Linked DNA regions of Homo sapiens: all the other regions are linked to region 3. The links come from fine-mapping of genetic effects on gene expression. A gene starts in region 3. Each other region holds a variant in brackets. All regions are shown on one strand. Distances are from middle to middle.

Region 1 (2,500 bases), 220 kb before region 3:
AAAAATGATTAATGAGAACTTTATTACTTGTGATATTCATATATAGGAATAGAAACTAGCATTTACATATAGCAATAAACCCAAAGCTACATAATTTTTAAATGTGTATTATATATTAACTGCATATTATATAATATATAAAATCAAACTACAGTTGTCCCCCAGTATCTATGGGGAATTGGTTCCAGGACACCCCAAGGATACCAAAATCCAAGCATACCCCAGTCCTACATTTGACCCCATGGAGCCTGGATACACAAAATGTTGGCCCTCTGTATCTGCAAGTTTCAAATCCTGCAAATATTGTACTTTTGATCCACACTGATTGTGGATGCAGAAGCCGTGGACACAAAGGGCCAACTGTGTTTGAGAGAGATCCACATTTAGATAAACCCACACAGTTCAAACTCGCACAGTTGAAACTCACGTTGTGCAAGGGTCAGCTGAACATCAAACAAGCTTTGGCAAAAATGCTTTCACATACGGATATTAATAAGTTACACTTGGAATAATAGTAACTTCCTTAACTAAGTCTCACAGTATCATTTATTTCATAGGCTAATAAGGGAAATAAGGTTTCAGTCTAGAAGATATTCAACAAATGCATCTAAGTTTCTCCTAAAAGTCTAAGACATTGCTCTTGGTGCTGTTTTCATGACATTCCATGCTCTCCTGAAATGATCACATTAAAACAAACATAAAATTATACTGAGTTGGACACAAAACTCTGAGACCCTGCCAACCTAGTATTTATTGGCACTATCATCTCCAGCTCTATGCCATGCCCTGTAAGCAAATTGTTTTTCTTCCTAATGGAGAGGTGTTTCCTGTTTTTAATGCAATTTCCCTGGGCTGACAGGATAAATACATGTAAGAACAACATAGGAAGAAAACCCAAGACAACAAATAATTAAGTGCTCATTCCCAGCACTCTGGGAGGCCGAGGCAGATGGATTGCTTCAGCTCACAAGTTTGAGACCAGCCTGGGCAACATGGCGAAACCCCGTCTCAACAAAAAAAATTCAAAACTTAGCC[G/A]GGCATGGTGGTGCACGCCTGTAAGCTGAGGTGAGATTGCTTGAGCCTAGGAGGCGTAGGTTGCAGTGAGCCAAGATGGTGCCACTGCACTCCAGCCCGGGTGATAGAGCCCGACCTTGTCTCAAAAATAAATAAATAAATACCGCACTCTAGATAAAGACACACTGTAGTCTGCAGGGGTAGGCACTGTGTGCAACAGAAGCATATAGGAGGGTCACCTCACCCAGTCCCTGGAGGGAAGCATGAATGGCTTACTGGGAAGAGGCCACCTTGGCATCCTTTAACCTAGATTAGTGAGAATTAGCCAGGGGAATGGTGAGGGTGGAAGCAGTCAAAGCCCATGGATGGCAGAAGTAATGCTGCCCACCAAGGCATGTGGTGGTGAGGGGCAAGGGAAGGGGGACAAAAGCATTGTCTTTCCTCCATGGGCAGAGGAAAAAAAGACAATACCAAGAAGTGAGAATGGAAAGATACACAGAGGCCAGGTCAAGGAAGGGTTTTTAAGCAGTATTATGGCTTCTGAATTATATCCTCGGAACAATGGGAGCTCATGAAGTATTTTAAGCAGAGAGATGAAGGATCCGATTTTCATTTTTGGAGAGGTCATGGGGAAGAGACTGAGGCTGCAAAAAAATAAATAAAAAATATGCATACCAGTGGTGTTCAAAGTTTTTGATCATAGCAAATGTACCAACATAGGAAAGGAGGCCATGAGCCTTCTGTGCTCCATGTGCCCACCCTCCACTAGAAAAAAGAGCCATGTGAGAAAGAACCGGAGTGGAACATGAACCACTTGTTACATTTCCTTTATAAGAGAAGAAATTAGCTCACACATATGCCCATCATCTTAAAAATAACCATGTAATTTTAGGCCGCACATGGTGGCCCACACCTGTAATTCCAGCACTTTGGGAGACTGAGGTAGGCGGATCACGAGGTCAGGAGATGGAGACCATCCTGGCTAACACAGTGAAACCCTGTCTCTACTAAAAATACAAAAAATTAGCCGGGCGTGGTGATGGGCACCTGTAGTCCCAGCTACTAGAGAGGCTGAGGCAGGAGAATGGCGTGAACACGGGAGGTGGAACTTGCAGTAAGCCGAGATCGCACCACTGCACTCCAGCCTGGGCGACTGAGTGAGACTCCGTCTCAAAAAAAAAGAAACAAAAAAAAGCCATGCAATTTTACTTCACTTCTTCAACCTCACAATCAAAACACTTTCATAAGCACAGGGGCTTAGGAATGTGGGCCCTAGAAACTCACAGATCTGTCTCCAGCCCTGCACTCACAGAGTGATAGCAGAAAAGCTACTGCACTACCAGAAGCAGGGTTTCACACTATCATTATATAAACAAGAACCAAATGGCATAAAAGTAAGAACTCCACATACCTTCTGTGACTTCTCAGCTACCATGAGGACCAAATCAAAGTCATAGGTGCCAAGAGAATGATCATATAATTCATT
Region 2 (2,500 bases), 240 kb before region 3:
CTCAATGTCCTTCCTCTGTATTTCCCTTTTGCCTTGTTTAGTCCTCTAATACTTATTTAACAAATCCATATATTAAATTCTGTGATAAAATAATAGATAGGCTTTTGTTTTCCTTTCTAGATCTTGACTGATACACCAGCCTTTTTGAATCCAAATAAAAACTCTTAACAATAGACTTGAAGTATAAGAGAGTGAACAGAGGTATAAATAATAAACAGATGACAATATACTAGAATTCTGCGATACAAAGCTGATTCAGCCTTAAACACAACCCGCAAAGTCCATCATAACAACATAGAAGTGACAAGTCAAATTTTTCATAAAACAAAAGGAAAAGCAATTGCCTGGGGTCCCTTTAAAGCCTGATCCCATCCCTGAGTTCTGAAAGGAAAGTGAGAGGCCGTCTCTGACCCCATCTTCCCCCATCTCTCCCCACTCCAACCTCATTGAAGGCCAGGAGCAATCATGTGACTTTCCCATTTTCTCCATGACAGCTACTTCATCCAGAAAGGAAAATGACAGTCCATTTAACCTATGCCAAGGTATACTAGTCACTCTACAGGCAAATATCAAATCTTACTGACAGCTTACACATAAATCTAAGATAATTTAACTATGGCATCTTATGTTTTAAGAACAGGAAAACTTTTTGACTTGGAGATTGTGTGAATACAATAACCCATGAAAATGATGAAAAAAATGCACACCGTCTCTGAGAAAACTTACCGGGGTAGCTGAATTCTGCTGGTAAGTAAGAGTCCAAATTTCTGGAAGTGACCTTTCCATCAACTGCAGCGTATCTTCAAAGGCCTTCTGTAATTCCCTTCCTTGTTCATCAAACTCAAAGAGAAAGAGTACCTTTAAAATATGGTATACTTCATCTAGAGAGAAGAAATTTGAAAGAGTGGTAAGTTATATTCCCAGCTCCATTGACAGAATCATACATAGCTTCTATCCAAAGCCAAAAATTTCTATGATCCCACTGCAGGTCCTTTCTCCCACATTATCTTTTTTCTTCCCAAATGCTGGAATAATTAAACACATGTACTACAAAAAGAAAATCAAGCACGCTGGGGGGCCTACGCAGAAAGCAGTGTCCCACAATTCTTTATCCTGGC[C/T]TAAGCATCTCTCCCAGTTCAGTTAGGGGGATGCCAAATGGAGGAAGGCTTCTCAGTTACCAGCTAAGAAGGGCTGCTTCAGGAATGTGTGCAGACATGACCCTTCCTGCTAAAAGTTCTCATCTTTCCTCAAATTGGGAAAATGGTAGCTTAATCACCTACTGAACTCTGCCTGTCTGTACTGCCTATTCACTATTGTTTGTGGTCAGGAATCATCATCAGGACTGAGAATATACCTTTCAGGTTTTCAGTGTTCTGCACCACTTCACTCAGTGCCTCCAGGAGGGCCAGGTCCTCCAGCGGACTGCCTTCTTTGAGGCTGTGCTTCTTCCGCTCCGCTTTTCGGCGATTCTTGGATGATCTCCTGTTAGAAATTACACAGATATTTTTAAGCCTCCTGAGTAGCTAGGACTACAGGCATGTGCTACCTTGCCTGGCTACTTTCTTGCAGTTGCTGATGACCCCACACAACTTCACAGATCTCCATTTTAAATTCCTAAAGCAAAATTCAGTTTGAATATATAATCTTGCATTGCTTTACACATCCCAAGCAAGACTATAAACTCTTATAACTCATATCTCCTTATAAGTTTTTGGTAACATCTACTGCACCTACCATATGAGTGCTGAATAAATATTTCTGACAAATTACTATATTTGGTAAAAGTGTTATGACTTATTTTACATTTATGGTCTCTTCCAATCCTGATTTTGAATTGAAGAAGCTTATCTTTTCATTTTTTCAGTGCCTATAATTTAGTCACAACATTTGTTCAAAAAATAAAATCAGATGTTAATATAAACTGAGCATTCAGGGGAGGAACTGCCTCGTGGGGAATGGGAAAACACACAAGCCACAAGGCTGAGGAAGAAAACCTTCCAATGCCAAGTTTAATGTCTCAGATATGCTGGGAAAGTGTCTGAACAACTTCCACACAGCGCTGAAGAATATTCTCCCCACTCCCACTACACCGTCCCAGTAGAAAACCAATCTATTTGCTTCCACTTTCCCTATATGCCCAGGATATAGTCAATGTGCTGAATCAATGTGATACGTACGCTGATATCCTGGAGTTACTATGGGAGTATTTGCCACTCATCTCACTGCCACTCACGACACTGCTAGTTTCAGAGAAGAGGTCTGACTCTTGCCCGTGGGGTACCTCATCATCTAGAAAAGAAGAACCAGAAGCCGATGAAAACACTGCCTGCTAATGTGTGGGTTTACTTTCAGGGCGGTAAATGAACTAACTAGAGTCAACTGGTGCATATCAAAGGATGGATGAAAATGATTGCAAAGTTGATCTCAAAATGAATGAGATAATATTAAATACAGTAATTACTAATGTAAATCAGTAGTTTCCTGAACTTTTTTCTGGAAA
Region 3 (2,763 bases):
CCAATAACCTCAGGCAAGCCAAAACACCGCTAGACAGATAAGGGGAATTAATATTTTCCAACTTAATGACGTCAAGGTACACTGAACTTTATTTCACTGACAAAAGAAGTGAATCAATTTGTAAATGGTACTGTTTATGAATCAATTGGCATTCTTACGCACTAAATCTCCACTTGTTTTTAACAGTCTCCAGTTAAATATGTGGATAATTAACTAGTCCACAATATAGTCTGAGTTAGGAATTGTGTCACTAGATTACCTTTGAAATCTTTCCAATTCTAAAGCTCCCTGGTTTTGTAAGAGTAAGCTCAGGTTAATCCAAGCATCACAAATCTACGTCTCTCCCCTTCACGCGGTCAGCTGCTTTACTCCAGGCGGGAGGAGGTGTGCTGTGGTACACCAGTCCCTGCACAACAAAAGCAGTTACCTAAAAGTAAAGCGTGGAGAGGAAGAAGCACAGGCAGCTCAGCACCCAGTGCCTTGCACAAATTATACAGGAATCACCTGAACTGAGAGGCAGCACCAGCCAGTGAAGCAAGCTTTGTTTTAGGACTTGTAAGAAATCTAAGACACCCAAACCCCTCTTTGTCCCTAAGTAGCCCTAGCCTGGTAAGAGGTCACCTTTCCTATCTGCAGGATGGCAAGTTGGCCTAGAATCTCTAAGGTCCCTTCCAGCTCTGACATTCAGATGCGCAGAACTGAGGGTGGCCGAAGCACCCCCGCCCTCTCCAACCAGAAGTAAAACCAAGCCCCACTGCCATGCTCTGAGGCCTCTCTCTGCAAAGCGAAATAACGATTCTCAATCCAGGGCACTGTCCCCCTAAGAGGGCCTATTAGGATTGAAACAAGGCGAAAAGCAGGGAGGCTGTTTCAAATCACGCCCGCCCCCTTTTTGGAAGAATGTCCGCCAAATTCCTGAGGTGTGAGAAGGAAAGCGGAGACGGACGGTCACTGCAGCACAGGTGTGGCCCCTCGTCGCCCCTGCACCGGGAGGAACAGCTGCAGGATTGCACCCCAGAGCGCCGGGACCACGGGCGGGGGACGGGGGCGGACTGCCGCTCACTCACCCACAGGCTGCTGAAGTAGTCCAGCCCGCGGCAGATGAGCGTGGCAGCGTGCACCAGCAGCACCTGCACGCCCAAGTAGCTGCCGAGGCAGTAGAGGCCGTACAGGAGCGGGCCGCCGGCGCCGAGCAGCAGGAGCAGGCGGCGGCGGCGCAGCGCCTGCTCGCCCAGGGCCTCGACGCCGTAGTCGACGAAGCAGAGCGGCAGGAGCAGCGCGGCCAGGACGATGGGCGTGTGCGCGCGGTGCAGGCGCTGCAGCCAGTGGCGGCCCAGGCGCGTCAGCGAGCTCTTGAAGGGGTGCAGAAAAGTGCCGCATAGCACGGCCCAGAGCAGCGGCCGCAGGAAGGCCTCCAGGATGAAGTAGACCAGCACCGCGGCGCCGCAGCACAGGCACACGAACAGCACGGCCCCGGTGTTGTAGAAGGCCTGCTTAATGGGCTTGTCGAAGCGCAGCGCCAGCGCCGCGGTCCGCGGGGTCTCCCCGCCACCGCCACTCGGCCCGACCGCGCGCGGGACCCGCGGCGCCGGCCCGGGAGAGCTCCGCAGGCTTGGCGCGTCCTTAGGGCCGCCGCCGTCGGCCATCGTTCCTCCGCCACAGCCGCCCCCGAGGGGCGGTAATGGGAGTCGGGCTAGAAACGCGGGCGGGAGGCAGGGCGGGAGGCGCGCGAGATTGTGGGAGTTGTAGTTCCCCGCTGGTTTACAGACCCACCAAGCGCTTGCAGGAAACTACAACTCCCGAAGGGGAAATGGGGAAAACGCCTCCGCCTCCTTGGTGTCCGCAAGGTCCTGCTAACAAGTTTGCAGGGTCTATATCTTCCTGGAGGGGGGGGGGGGGGGAAGCTCCTTTCACTCATTCGTTAATGTCAATTTCTCGCGAGGCGAGATCCCAAAAGGCGCCACATTCAGATATTAAAACCCAAGCTGCATACTAGAATACCGTGGGGGAGTACTTTTAAAGAACCAATGCCCCGATTCTGTTTTACTGATTTATTTAACAGATATTTTTAAAGTGTTTTCTTTGGTGTATCTGACAGGATTTTAAATAGAGATTACCATATAACAGGCCCTATTCTAAGTGGCTCACTCCTATTAACTCATTTAATCCTTAGAACAACCCTACAAAGAAGGTGTTATTATCCTCATTTTACCAACAGAAAAACTGAGACAGAGCCGTTAAGTACGCAGCCAGAGTCACACAGCTACCAAGTGGCACAGGCAAGATTCAAACTCAGGGATTCTGGCTCCAAAGGCTATACTTTTATCTACCATAGTATTTGGCCTGAGGAAAGAACTCTTGGCATTTTTCAAACGTTCCTCATAAGCCTGTAATTTGCAGCCGCTGTTGACAACTGTTTGTGCAGGTTTCGCTGTGGACGCAATCTAAACTCTTAAAAGAGTCGTAGATCAAAGTCTCAAACTGCCACTGTTTCTTTTTGAGACTTGATGTAATGTCAGTTAAGCCCCCAATCTCAAGTTTTCCTCTGTCACATGGCGATGATAATAATAATAGCTTTTGCTTTAGGGTTATTGTGTGGGGGAAGGGAAACTCTGGGGCGGTACAAGGTGCTTCTGTTCCCCTATTGGAAAAGTGCTGGGATCCAAGCCTGCTACCCATAAAATATCCCAATCAACATTTTGATTTAAAAAAAAAAAGAAAGCCTTGACTGAGTACTCAACATGTGATTGCTTCAAACCTTGC
Region 4 (2,500 bases), 230 kb before region 3:
TGCCCAGCCTTCAAGAGTTTTACAGTTTTAGCTCTTAAATTTTTGTTGATCCACTTTGAGTGGCCAGCAGTTTTTGAAAACTCGGAAAATACTGAATCTTTTGGAAAAAAAAAAAAAGAATAAACATGAAAGGTCATTAAAAAATTTCCTTAAACAATCATTGATCACTTAAAGCAAAAGCAATAACAAAGTATTATGGAGTGAATACTCTTGTAAGGTTTTTACACTATATATGAAGTAGTATACGATTATCTGAAGATATGGTCAGTTAATGATATTTATTATAAATCCTACAGCAACCACTAAAATACTGAAATGAAGAAGTATAGCTAATAAGCCAACAGTGGAGGTAAAATGGAATTATGAAAAATACTAAATCCAAAGGAAAGCAAAAAAAGAAAAAAACAAGAAACAAAGGATCAATGAAACAAACAAAAAGCAAACAGCAAGACTGTAGGTTTAAATCTAACTATATTGGTAATCACATTCAATGCAAATGTCTAAACCCTCCAATTAAAAGACAGAGATTGTCAAATTAGATTTAAAAAAAAAAAAGAACCAATAATGCTATCAACAAGGAACGCACTTTCAAAATAAAGACTACATTCAGCTAGATTAAAAGTAAAAGGATAGAAAAAGATATGCAATGAAAAGACTAACCAAGAGAAAGCTGGAAGAATTATATTAATAACATTAAAGTCAAATTCAGAATTAGGAATAGTAACAGAGAAAGAAGGATATCAAAATGAATACATCTATAACATACTCATAAACATGTATGCACCTATAACAGAGCTTCAAAATACATTAAGCAAACACTGGTAGAATCAAAGGAGAAATAGACAAATACTGGGAGACTTCAACACTTTCCCAGTCATTGATAGAGCAAGTAGTGAGGAAATCAATAAGGATATAAAAAGCTAGAACAGCATGATCAACCTAATCTAACTGACATTTATAGAACACTCCATCCAATAATAGTAGCTTTCATATTATTTTCAAATACACACACAACATTCTGTAAAACAGACCATATTATAAATTAAAATAAATTATAAATTTAAATTAATAAAATGTATGTTCTCTAATCACAACAAAATTAAAGTAGAAATTAATAACAAAAAGATGGCTGGCAAATCTCCAATATCTGCAAGTTAAACATACTTCTAAATAAGCCAAGGTTCAATAAAGAAATCACAAGGGAAATTAGGAAATGAAAACAAAACATTTCAAAATTTGTATAAC[A/G]TAACTAAAACGGTGCTTGAGGAAAATTATGGCATTATATGCTTAAACTATAAAGTAAGGAATCATCTCAAATCAATAGCTTTAAGCCATCACCTTGGTCAGGCACAGTGGCTTACACATGGAATCCCAGCACTTTGGGAGGCAGAGGTGGAGGGATCACTTGAGGCCAGGAGTTTCAGACCAGCGTGGGCAACTAGTAACACCCCATCTCTACAAAAAAAATTAAAAATTAGCCAGGCATGGTGGCATGCACCTGTAATCCCAACTACTCTGGAGGCTGAGGGGGGAGGACAGCTTGAATGTAGGAGTTTGAGACTGCAGTGAACCATGATCGTGCCACTGCACTCCAGCCTGAGCAAGAGTGGGACCCTGTTTCTTTAAAAAAACAACAACAACAAAAGAAAAAAATAAGAAAAAAATAAAAGTAAGCCATCACCTTAAGAAACTAGAAAAATAAAGAGCAAATAAAATAATAAAATAATAAAAAAAGAATGATATAGAATACAGAAAAATCATAGAGAAAAACAATGAAACAGTTCATTCTTTAATAAGATCAATAAAATTGATAAACCTCTGGCCAGAATAATCAGAAAAAAGAAGACACATCAATATCTAGAATGAAAGACAGGACATCACCATAGACCCTACGGACAGTAAAATAAGAGAATACTATAAACACTTCATACCAATAAATCTGACAATTTAGATGAAATGAACAAATTACTTGAAAGACATAAACTACCAATGCTCATTCCAGAAGACACAGATAAACTTGAATAGGCTAATGTCTACTAAAGTAACTGAACTAATAGTGGAAAAGCTTTCATTAAAGAAAACTCCTGGCCGAGATGGCCTTACTGGTATATTCTACTAAACATTTAAAGAAAAAAATATCTCCCAAGAGCTGGGAGAAAGAGCTGAGCTGTCAGGTGTTGGAGTAGCTGATCAAAGCAACAAGTCAAAAATGAATTAAGCCTTCAGGCATTGCATTGGTATAAGCAAGAGGCTAAAACCAGGGAAAGCACCAACTCTCTCTGTTCCATTTTTTCCCAAGGAACAACTCACTAGTCAAGAGTCAGCTGGATCCACACAGACATGAGGGTTGGTTCACTGTTGAAGGAGCTTGGAAAAAAAGGCTTTAGCAGTTTGATGGATCTTGGGGGTATGGGTGCAAAGGAAGGGGGCTAAGGGTGGAAAAGTACTGGGTAGTGAGTCACAGTGGAAAAAAATGTCAAGGTTTTTCCACTCCTTCTTG

Which allele goes with the higher level. Positions count from the first base shown, and alleles are read on the strand shown. Sizes are in standard deviations (SD) of each study's normalised expression. Not every link is listed here.
For the expression in whole blood of the gene that starts at base 1,680 in region 3, G is the high allele of the variant in region 1 and A is the other (small effect, 0.32 SD a copy in Lepik 2017).

What was found. PIP is the estimated chance that this variant, and not a neighbour inherited with it, causes the effect.
Region 1: its variant is fine-mapped to the expression of TMEM245 in whole blood (Lepik 2017, PIP 0.95). The same link has a PIP of 0.9 or more in NK cells.
Region 2: its variant is fine-mapped to the expression of TMEM245 in whole blood (Lepik 2017, PIP 0.93).
Region 4: its variant is fine-mapped to the expression of TMEM245 in blood mononuclear cells (TOPMed, PIP above 0.99).

The regions. Positions count from the first base shown.
Region 1 is chr9:108,894,071-108,896,570 of GRCh38, forward strand. It overlaps ELP1 (elongator acetyltransferase complex subunit 1), which reads right to left. Exons shown (of 37, transcript NM_003640.5): 25 at 2,426-2,500. Among named protein-coding and RNA genes, the nearest start is that of ACTL7A, 33 kb to the left of the region's middle. The variant G/A (reference allele first, on the strand shown) is at 1,036.
Region 2 is chr9:108,877,269-108,879,768 of GRCh38, forward strand. It overlaps ELP1 (elongator acetyltransferase complex subunit 1), which reads right to left. Exons shown (of 37, transcript NM_003640.5): 33 at 2,178-2,289; 34 at 1,355-1,482; 35 at 727-881. Among named protein-coding and RNA genes, the nearest start is that of ACTL7A, 16 kb to the left of the region's middle. The variant C/T (reference allele first, on the strand shown) is at 1,119.
Region 3 is chr9:109,118,268-109,121,030 of GRCh38, forward strand. TMEM245 (transmembrane protein 245) reads right to left here and starts at 1,680. Exons shown (of 18, transcript NM_032012.4): 1 at 1,068-1,680. The coding sequence starts at 1,646. RefSeq lists silencers at 1,010-1,119, 1,470-1,639, 1,780-1,829 and an enhancer at 1,310-1,359.
Region 4 is chr9:108,883,458-108,885,957 of GRCh38, forward strand. The region is part of intron 29 of ELP1 (elongator acetyltransferase complex subunit 1); the gene reads right to left. Among named protein-coding and RNA genes, the nearest start is that of ACTL7A, 22 kb to the left of the region's middle. The variant A/G (reference allele first, on the strand shown) is at 1,246.